3 linked regions of the Homo sapiens genome follow. The protein of the gene in region 2 interacts with the protein of the main gene of each other region in a pairwise test. Each region holds a gene or a part of one and is shown on either strand. Other genes may lie near its edges.

Region 1 (3,649 bases), on a different chromosome or scaffold from region 2:
CACCGCTGTCTCCCAAAGTGCTGGGATTACAGGTGTGAGCCCCTGTGCCCAGCCTCTCTTTAGCATTTCTTAGCACAGGTCTGGTAGTGATGAATTCCTTTAGTTTTTGTTTATCTGGGAATGTCTTATGTTCTCCTTCATTTTTGAAGGACAGTTTTGCTAAATATAGAATTCTTTGTTGGCTCTTTTGCTTTCAGCATCAGATCAGATTCTATCCCCTCCCCAGGGCTTATTACTGCTGCTTATTGTGAGTGGTTGTTGTTTGCTTGTTTAGTGACTTTACTAAACTACTTTTATAAGCTCTATATTCCTGGTCATGTGGGGCCGCTGAAGTCTATTCCATTTGCTTAGTAATCAGCTAGGGTTTTAACAGAGTTTCGTTAAACACCTGGAGCCAAAAGAAAAAACAAACAAACAAAAGAAAACCTCTCCCCATCTTTACAGATGGCTTTATGTTGGGGCAGTTTTTGACCACTTAGTGATGCCATTTATAATTCTGCCTTAGCCTTTGCTTACTGTTTGCTCAAAGCCTGAAGATCAGCCAGGGTGAAAGCTTAGGGTCTTCTTGGGCCTTTCCTGAATGTGCATCCAGCCCTGGCCATGTGCACGTCCTTCTTGATTGGTATACACACCCCTTATTACCCCATGTATATTCTTTCCCATCCCCTTTCTGTCCAGGCTTTTCCATCTGTCTGTTCCTTGTCCCAGTTGTTGTCCCTTGCCCCAGGCTGCTGCATCCATTAAATGATTTTTGCAAAAACCACCCAGGAAGACTCCCTATGCCTGGGAATGATTCAAGTCAGGCAAAGCCAAGGCAAGCCATTGCTCAGGTCCTTCAGGGAGCTGCCAGACAAGTTGAAACCCACAATCACAATTGTTTAAGAATGAGATCTGTATTGCTTCCTCTGGCATTAGGAGTGCAGGTTACTGTCCACACAGCCATCACTGACTTGGGGTGTGGGGGATGGTGGGCAGGCAACTTAGGATGCGATAGCACTCTCTTTACCACAAAGCAGCAACTTCTTTCTTTACCAAGCCTTGCCCTAGATTTTATAAGTTTTTTTTTTTTACTAGATTCCAGAGTTCTGCAAAAGTTGAGTCTGACAGTATTTACCAGCTCATTAATTGCATTCATTGCTTTTTGCAGGGACAGTGCCTTGGAGTTCCTTACTCTACTATTTTTGGTGGTATCACCCCAAATGTAGGGATTTCTCTGAAGGCTATCATTAACCGGAAGTAAGAAAATTAGGAAGGAAGAAGTTGATTTAGGGGTATAGACTGGATTATTTTTATTTGGACATGAGTGTTGGGTTTGAGGTACTGATGGCACAATCTGTGGGTGTCTAGTGACAGTTGGAATTGTAATGCCTGAATTCCAGAAAGGTCTTAGAGCTGCAAAGAGATCTGGGAACCTTCTGCACAGAAATTATAGAAAATGAAAGTGTATGATTTCCTTGGAATAGAGAGGAAGGTCAAGTATGTCATCTTGTGAAACACTTTCAGCTAAGGAATTCTTCATTTATTCATTCAGCATGTTTGCTGACTGCTGAATACATAATTTTGTTTTTCCTTTGTTCCTACTACTGATGTATGTACTGCTAAGCGTTGGAGACAGAAACGAATAAGATCTCGTTTTCTGCCCTCAGGAAGTTCACTCATATTGAGGAAGACAGACAAGTAAACAAGTACAATGCAGTGTTATAATAACAAGGTTAGAGGAGCCTAGACAGAGGTAAACAAGAATATGTAAACAGGTTGGGAGGGAAAATAAGAAATTCGGGGAAGTCAAAGAAGAAGAAAACATAATGGAGAGAGTGGGCTGTGATCTTGGTTGCTGCATATAGAGTTTGAGAAGGCTGAGGACTTTAAAAGTTACTGATTTGACAGTAAGGAGAGATGACATAAGAATGGTATTCATAAGAATGGTTTTAATTGAGTAGTTTTGTTAGAATGTTGGAGACAAAGGATCAGATAATAAAGAGTTGGGAGTGTGAGTGGTGAAAAAGTCGAGGGAAAAGGAAAAACAACCTTTTTTTTTTTTTTTTTTTTTTTTTGAGACAGAGTCTTGCCCTGTCGCCAGGCTGGAGTATAGTGACGTGATCTTGGCTCACTGCAACCTCCGCCTGCCAGGTTCAAACGATTCTCCTGCCTCAGCCTCCTGAGTAGCTGGGACTACAGGTGCACACCACTGCACCCAGCTAATTTTTGTATTTTTAGTAGAGACGGGGTTTCACCATGTTTGGCCAGGATGGTCTCGATCTCTTGAGCTTGTGATCTGCCCGCCTCAGCCTCCCAGAATGCTGGGATTACTGGCATGAGCCACCGTGCCCAGCCGGGAAAGACAACTTTTAAAAGAGTGGTATAGTTTATTCTATAGGAAAATTGGACCAGTTAGAGAAAAAATAAATAAATTACCAAAATGTTACGGTTTAAAAGTTGTAGCAGAGTTAAAGTAACTTCATTTTGGAGTAGAAAAGATATGAGTGTGTTTTTAGACAATTGAAGGGACTAAATAGGAAGGAAAACAAGGATGTCGAGAGTCCCAAGAGAGTCAGGAAAGATAGTATTAAGATCCTAGAAGGATCAGGATTTGGAGACTTGAGTGAAGAACGAGAGTGAGGATAATGAGAGTTTTGAGACAAAAGGAATTTGAGAAGTTTTACCTAGGGAAGCCTCAGTTTTCTAGGTAAAGTAGAGCATAAAATCACACGCTAAGAAATGGGCAGCAGTGAAAATGCCTGACTGAAGTTGATGTAGCGTACATTTGTATTGATAGTACCATTTGGTGATTTTCTCATTTCTTTCAACACATATGTGTTAAGCATTTACTGTGTACTAAGCACTATACAAGATCCTTGGGATTCTATCTGTAAACAAACAAAACTCCCTGTCCTTTTGGAGGTTACATATGACTGGGGTAAGGGGAGAAAAACAAATAATATTTTAAAATAAACATATGAGGTAAATAGAGCTACCTGGGTCTGGGAACCAAGAAAGCAAATGGGAAGATTAGCCAGACATAACTGCAATTTTATATTGCATATCATATTCTGATTTAAGATAGAAATAATTTTATTTTTATACAGCTCATTGTAGAATCTAGCTTGCTTAAACTAAGACAAGAAGAGTATGGGTGTGGTGGAGCCTTTGTGTACTTAGATTGTAGCTATGAAAGAAATCTATATTTACATTTAAGAGGGAATTCATTAATTTAGGACAACTTTATAATTATGTTATATAGTTATTTCAGGGCCTTTGACAAGAGAAAAGATGGTGAACTGTCATATAATAACAAATTAAATATTTATTTGGTTAAGAAAAAGAAAATTTGCATCTTATTTCCAAAAAGATGATTTTTAACTACATAGAAATTTGTTATATTTAAAAGCTTTAAAGATCTATATAGAGTTGAAGATCTCTTTTTAATAATGAATAAGTTCATTCTTTTGGTAATCATTTTTTTATATTCTCCTCTCATGGCCCTTTTTAATTTCAACAGGCATTGGAAAAGTGAAAAGAAAACCTAGTGTGCCAGATTCTGCATCTCCTGCTGATGATAGTTTTGTTGACCCAGGGGAACGTCTCTATGACCTCAACATGCCCGCTTATGTGAAATTTAACTACATGGCTGAGAGAGAGGATGAATTAT
Region 2 (3,649 bases):
GACTAGGTGTTAATAATAGTAGTAGTAGAACATTTATAGAGTGTGCTCATTGTGTGCCAGGCACTTGAGCTAAGTATCTTACAAATATCATCTCATTTAATCCTTACAACAACCCTGAGGTAGTTACTATTATTATCCCTGTTTTACAGTGAGGAAACTGAGGCTCCCAAGGTTAAATGACTTGCCTTTTAGACTGGCATTAGAGCCTAAACACTAAACCACTATCTATACTGCATCCTTTAAACTCAAAATCTCCATGACTTTAGTTAAATAAAAATGGGCAGTGCCTTAGCAAAGTCAGCATGCTTTATTACCTGGGACATATTTTACTAGCCAATTTTCAGTTGAATCCTAAGAAACTTTCTATCTAATTTAAATCTTAAAATGCTGCTGGTAAAGGGTCTCCACTATAATGACCTCTATGTACAGAGGTCATCTAGAAAAACACTGAATGAATTTCTTAGGGCCAAATTTTTTAAGGCTAATCTCTGAAAATCATGATGGAAGTCTACAGGAAAATATATACATTTAAATTTTACACAAAGCCTTTTAAGAAAATACTTTAGGTAAAGCACAATCAAGATGTATTCAACACAAATCACTGCATTTTAAAGTGGGAAATCTAAACTGAAGTAATATTATCTGTACATGAAAGGAATCAAGCAGTGGCAGCCCAAAGGCATGCATCCAGATATACAGCATAACCACTTTAGAAAACTGTCAACGCCTTGGACAAGGGCCTTTGCTCATTGCTTTTAGAATAGTTAAAATTAAACTACACTTTTCCAGAAGCAGTTCTCTCTGCTTTGGATTCAAACCTTTTAATTTACATAAGGGTTTGTGTTTAAGCTGGTCCTTTTCAAGTAGAAAAAGGAAAAACCTAAATTATGCTTGTATAGTAAGTTGACAGTGCCTCTTTAACCTGAACCTTGAGCCCTCAACCCCTGAAGTTACATAGTTCAAGCATCATGTGGACGGGGTATGCTCCAATAGTCAATGCCACTCTTGACAGTGTTGACAAAAATCAATTCCATTTATATATCGTGCACCCACTGTAGGCAAGACAGCTAGGTGCTGCCCCTGAGTAAGACACAGCCCCCACCCCCTACCCTTCAGATTGTTGTTGGGCAAGAAAACCAGGGAGCCTAAATACACTCAGTAGTGTTTCTCCAAGGCTTAGTTCCAGAACTCTCAAGGGAAAATAGAGCCCTTGCTTAAAAAACAAAAAACAAAAAAACCCTGAAAAACAATTACAATCCCTTAACTTGCATCCCACAACAACAGGGATAAACCTAAAAAGCAGCATAATAATATTCTACAGTTTTAGCTTTCCCATCCTCGACCTTAAAAGGCTAGCTGCTAAAACGAGTTCTTCAAGTTTACGGACATGTATGATGAGCAAGAATGGCAGGAAAGAAGGTGGGAGAAGGACCGCTGGTTTTTACATCTGAGTTCTCTTCCAACCACTAGGAGGAGATGAACCCAATCACTAGCTGCCTGTGCTGCAACTGCAGGTGACATACTGCGGGGATCACCCAACACCTGCCAGGAATGCCCAGCACCGCGTGTCTCCTCTAATCCTCTTAACCTGGGCCTCCTTTGGAGCAGCAATGGTAAGAATCAAGGTTTCCTTTCTTTCCAATGAAAACTCAATTTTGTTCTTGGTCAAAAATGCCAAACTCTATTCAAAACATAGTTTTCCCCTTAGTATTCTAGCCCAATTCATATAATCTCAACAATTCTTAATTTCATTAATATTTTCTACTCAGCAAATAAGATAATGGAAAACAATTCAGCATAACAACACTGCACTAAAAGAGCTTTCCAGAGAGGCTCTCCAAGGGATAGCTGCACACTTACTTGCAACACCCTTGAGAACATGTACTGTTACCTTAATTAAATAGATTAAGAGATGAGGCTGTGGTTTGACAGTGTATCAATGACAGAGCCAGAAGAAAACTCAGTGCTCAATGTTGAATTCCTATCTTCCTAAGCTAATATTCCTTTGAGAGAATAAAATAAAAATATGTGTGTATTGAGCTCTCCTTGGGGAGGATGGGGGAAGTATTCATAAAGCTTTAAAAAGAGAATGAAGCAGTAACTGGAATTAGACCCGATACCAAGAACATTAATAATACCTAACTCATTAGATTCACTTCCATGCCATCCTAATTAGCTTCCACAATTATAACTAAGGAAGGAAGGAAAAGGCCTATTTTTCAAGGGCAAAACATATTTAAGGATTAAGTCATTAGGTTCCCAGGGTCTACCTGGTGCTCCCTGAAAATGACTACTCCTTCAATTATGCATTCTTAAAATAGAAGTGAAATGACAAAATAAATAAAGAATATTCCCAATAAGATCTGTACAAATAAGCACAATGATTGGGTGGGGGAGTAGGGAGGAATATGTGAGAGAAGAAAAGCATGTGAGAATAATGTGGGGGTGATTCACTTCAAATCCATAGAGAGGAGAATGCCTCTCCCTATTCTCTACCTGGATTGGGCTTAAGGTGGTAAGGGAAGGGAAAGGTACAGAGAAACAGCCATTAGGACCAAGCCAGCTTTTCCTCTCAGTCACATACAGGCCACTGGGTTTCAAGAAAAGACCATCTCCCTGGTATTTTAGTTGATAAAGAAAAATACACAGCTGCTCAAGTCCTTGGCCAGTATGTCAGTATGCAGGGGAACTGTATCAGAACAGGATTCATTCCTTTGTGAGAACCTGTAGGGACTACTATTTTCAAAATCAACACTGGTTAATGCTCTGAATGCTACCAGGAATAAAGGAAGACAGCCTGCCCAGCAAAAGACAGAGAAGAACCACTAGGGAGACCCCTGTACTTATGGTTTACAGATAGCCACCAACAGGCAGGAAGCCGATCCTGGTCCATTATGAAATAATATACCAGACTGGGAGAAGTGACTTCTGCTAATCTGTGTAAGATTTTAGAAGGTTTTCAATTTCTGATTCAACTTTCCAGCATTCTTTACTTCCTGCACTAACTGATACACCAGCGGAAAATAGGACAGAGGCATTCAGATAGGGCCATATTTCCCAGTTTTATGTTGTAGCACTCTGATTTGCAGTTCTTATTACAGCAGCAATGGCCTTGTGGAAGCAAGGCTAACAGCTACTTCCAACAGCCCTGAACAAAAATTTCTCTTGGTACATTCCCAGCTTTCTTTTCTGCTGTCCCACCAAATTCATTAGGTAAATTGGAGCATAATCACCATTAGTACCTACCAGAGCCCCAGGTCTGGGTGCAGCTGCTGCAGTCTTGCTGAGAGCAGCCCTGCCTAGCACTTCCCAGCATTCCAGGTAGGGATGGGCTGCATTGCCTTCCTTATGACATACACATGTTCCCTATTTTCCAGTGCAGTTTCCAACCCTGTCCACTACTGCCTTGCCCCCACTTAATTTACCTCTCCTATACTTATGTGGTTTGCTTCTTATTTTTGAGATGAAACTGTAAACGTGAGAACTCAGGGATCTGAGGTACTTCACATAAACACACTCAAGTATGAGTCTTTCATTTTCTGAAAACAAGAACACAGGAAAACAAGTCCTTTTCCCTCTCCCCTCAGAAATGTGTGCATTTTCCCACCAGGCTAACAGTGGCTACCTCTGCACCACATCACTGATTTCC
Region 3 (3,649 bases), on a different chromosome or scaffold from region 2:
ACCACCATGCCTGGCTAATTTTTGTATTTTTAGTAGAGATGGGGTTTTCACCATGTTGGCCAGGCTGGTCTCCAACTCCTGACCTCAAGTGATTCTTCTGCCTGGGCCTCCCAAAGTGCTGGGATTCCAGGCAAGAGCCACCGCACCTGGCCTGGTATGGATTTTCTTTTAACTGCCCTGGGGCAGCCCCCAGAGCCATGCGAGCAAGGCACTGAGGGAATCAAATTGACCTTTTTCCCTCTGGCTGCTGTAAGAAATAAAGGTGGAGAAAGCAGTGAGATGATGGAGGCCAGGCCAGGGTGGGGGACTTGGAAGGGACAGATGTCCACAGTCGGGGCTATATGGCAGAGACACGGTCATCGGAGTTTCCTGGTGGGTTGAAGGGTGAAAGGCTAGCTCCCAAGTTCCAACACCTCATTCACCCCAGCACTGTCCCCACCCACAGCCCCCCTGCCCTCTGTCTGGGCACCTGCTTTGTACCAGGCCCAGGAGGTCAGTCCTGCAGGGGACACAGAGACAAATACCCATACCATGGCAGCAAACACTGGCACCAGATAGGTCCAGAGCATTGCAGGTACAGAGATGAAGGCAGCTGACCCCCAGGGAACTAACTACCCAGAGCTGGAGACCAGAAGCGCAGGCAGCCCGCCAGAATGAATGGTGAAGGGTTAGGCTGTGAAGAGGAGGGGAGGCTGGAGGAGTTGGCAGGGAACCGCTCATGGCCTTCAGTGCCAGGCGGAGGAGCTGGAACCTTGTCCTGACAGCAGTAGGGGGCTATGGGGAGATATATAGCAGGGAGGGTCATGACTGGAGTTCAAAAGAGCCCTTGGACTCCCAGGCGGAGGGTGGGCCTGAGCTGGGGGCACTGGAGGCTGGGAGCCCAGTGGGGACAGATCCTCCACCCAGTAACCAAGTGGCTTCTCTGGACCCAGTGACTCCCGTGGACTGTGGTGGCAGCAGCAGTGGCAGCAGCAGTGGAGGAAGTGGGACATGGAGCCGCGGTGGGCCCCCAAAGAAGGAAGAACTGGTCGGGGGCAAGAAGAAGGGACGAACGTGGGGGCCCAGCTCCACCCTGCAGAAGGAGCGGGTGGGAGGAGAGGAGAGGTGAGGTGTGGTGTGGTCATGCCCACCCTGTGCCCAAGCCCCAGCTCCCAGGCTCCAGGCCACAGGACTGAGGTCTCCATCTCTCCCTGGACCCCGCAGGCTGAAGGGGCTGGGGGAAGGAAGCAAACAGTGGTCATCAAGTGCCCCCAACCTGGGCAAGTCCCCCAAACACACACCCATCGCCCCTGGCTTTGCCAGCCTCAATGAGATGGGTAAGAGCCTGGGTTCTTGTAAGGGGGTGGGGGTTCCCTGGCCAAAGGGGTGAGCCTCCTGGGGCTGAGCGAAGAGACCAGGTTTCACTGGGCCAGTGAGTGGAAGGCCTTCCTGGGAAGGGAGATGGTGGCCCCTGGGGCGTGGGGGGTCATTTCCAGGGGCAGGGACCACCCTTCTCTGAGGCTTCTCCTGGAGACAGATTCAAGAACGATGCTCGTGGGTCTTGGTCTTGCTGTTGGAGGGGTCATCGGGGGCTGTCCCTTGGCACAAGTCCCCGTGGGGCCCTGGCCAGCCCTGCAGCGGAGTGATGGCCCTCTCCGGTTGCAGAGGAGTTCGCGGAGGCAGAGGATGGAGGCAGCAGCGTGCCCCCTTCCCCCTACTCGACCCCGTCCTACCTCTCAGTGCCACTGCCTGCCGAGCCCTCCCCGGGGGCGCGGGCGCCGTGGGAGCCGACGCCGTCCGCGCCCCCCGCTCGGTGGGGACACGGCGCCCGGCGGCGCTGCGACCTGGCGCTGCTAGGCTGCGCCACGCTGCTGGGGGCTGTGGGCCTGGGCGCCGACGTGGCCGAGGCGCGCGCGGCCGACGGTGAGGAGCAGCGGCGCTGGCTCGACGGCCTCTTCTTTCCCCGCGCCGGCCGCTTCCCGCGGGGCCTCAGCCCACCCGCGCGTCCCCACGGCCGCCGCGAAGACGTGGGCCCCGGCCTGGGCCTGGCGCCCTCGGCCACCCTCGTGTCGCTGTCGTCCGTGTCCGACTGCAACTCCACGCGTTCACTGCTGCGCTCTGACAGTGACGAGGCCGCACCGGCCGCGCCCTCCCCACCACCCTCCCCGCCCGCGCCCACACCCACGCCCTCGCCCAGCACCAACCCCCTGGTGGACCTGGAGCTGGAGAGCTTCAAGAAGGACCCCCGCCAGTCGCTCACGCCCACCCACGTCACGGCTGCATGCGCTGTGAGCCGCGGGCACCGGCGGACGCCATCGGACGGGGCGCTGGGGCAGCGGGGGCCGCCCGAGCCCGCGGGCCATGGCCCTGGTGAGTGAGGCGCCCTGCACCCAGGTCACAGAAAACCCCTTCTTTCCTCCTCTGCCAGGGTCGCAAGTCCAGCCCAGCCACGACCCCTCAGGCAGCCACCTCCTGCTTCTTGTGGAGGAGGGAGGGTCTGTGTCCCTTTACCGCTCACTCCTGGAGGCATCGGGGGTCTCCAGGGGACTGAGACACAGGCGGCAAACTGATGCCTATAAGGCCAGGCAGGTGCCTATAGCGGTTGTGACCAGCATGACCATCGCCAATTCTTACACAGCCTAGACACTGTTCTCCTCCATCTGTTAACTGGGTGGGAGATGCGGCCATAGCAGTGTTATTAAGTACCCACGTCAGGCACTGTGCTGCTTGTTTTAAGTTATGGTTATTCTATTTGCTCCTCACCTGCGTGGTGAGGCACCATTTTTATCCCCCTTCAGAGCTAAGCCATGCCTGAGCTTAGCCCAGTGCAGGAGAGTCGGGAAGACCAGGGCTTTGGCCCCCGAGGCTGCCGCTAAGCAGCAGTTCCAGAAGGTTGAGGAACATGCCAGGGTCCACCCAGAGGAGCAAGCAGCTGGGAGTGGTCCCAGTCTAGGTCAAGGTCCCAGCACTGCCACACTACAGATGGAAACTGGATGCAGCAAGATCCACGGATTTCTCGAGAGAAACCAGAACTTGTGCTTTTCATGTAACAGCTCTGGGCTTTTTAATGCCACCCTCTGCCCCACCCCACTCACCTCCTCTGAACCTCTCTTACCAGGCCCTCGTGACCTTCTGGACTTCCCCCGCCTGCCCGACCCCCAGGCCCTGTTCCCAGCCCGCCGCCGGCCCCCTGAGTTCCCAGGCCGCCCCACCACCCTGACCTTTGCCCCGAGACCTCGGCCGGCTGCCAGTCGCCCCCGCTTGGACCCCTGGAAACTGGTCTCCTTCGGCCGGACACTCACCATCTCGCCTCCCAGCAGGCCAGACACTCCGGAGAGCCCTGGGCCCCCCAGCGTGCAGCCCACACTGCTGGACATGGACATGGAGGGGCAGAACCAAGACAGCACAGTGCCCCTGTGCGGGGCCCACGGCTCCCACTAAGGCCTGCCCACCACCGCCCGCCTGGGCAGCCATGAATGTAGCGCCCCAGGCCCTGCCCCAGCCCGCCATGCCACAAGGTGGGGGAGGCCCTGGGCAGGATGTTCACTCTATTTATTGGGGAAGGAGGGAGGGGGGGGACACTTAACTTATTCCTTTGTACCCCAGGGGGTGGAGCCCTGTGCCCACCCTGCACTGGGGGGAGGGTGGGCAGGGATACTCAGGGACAGGG

What was found.
Region 1: the proteins of ABL2 (region 2) and NCK1 interact in binary tests that used the Homo sapiens proteins (3 or more experiments, as listed by UniProt).
Region 3: the proteins of ABL2 (region 2) and MAP3K10 interact in a two-hybrid assay, tested with the Homo sapiens proteins (one large-scale study listed by BioGRID and IntAct).

The regions. Positions count from the first base shown.
Region 1 is NC_000003.12:136,942,084-136,945,732, forward strand, and holds part of NCK1 (SH2/SH3 adapter protein NCK1), read left to right. Parts: intron 1-3,499; coding exon 3,500-3,649. UniProt on the Homo sapiens protein: Adapter protein which associates with tyrosine-phosphorylated growth factor receptors, such as KDR and PDGFRB, or their cellular substrates. Maintains low levels of EIF2S1 phosphorylation by promoting its dephosphorylation by PP1.
Region 2 is NC_000001.11:179,104,097-179,107,745, forward strand, and holds part of ABL2 (tyrosine-protein kinase ABL2), read right to left. Parts: coding exon 3,622-3,649; 3' UTR 1-3,621. UniProt on the Homo sapiens protein: Non-receptor tyrosine-protein kinase that plays an ABL1-overlapping role in key processes linked to cell growth and survival such as cytoskeleton remodeling in response to extracellular stimuli, cell motility and adhesion and receptor endocytosis.
Region 3 is NC_000019.10:40,211,873-40,215,521, forward strand, and holds part of MAP3K10 (mitogen-activated protein kinase kinase kinase 10), read left to right. Parts: intron 1-932; coding exon 933-1,104; intron 1,105-1,203; coding exon 1,204-1,316; intron 1,317-1,516; coding exon of another isoform or gene 1,517-1,644; coding exon 1,645-2,349; intron 2,350-2,777; coding exon of another isoform or gene 2,778-2,794; exon of another isoform or gene 2,795-3,029; intron 3,030-3,097; coding exon 3,098-3,420; 3' UTR 3,421-3,649. UniProt on the Homo sapiens protein: Activates the JUN N-terminal pathway.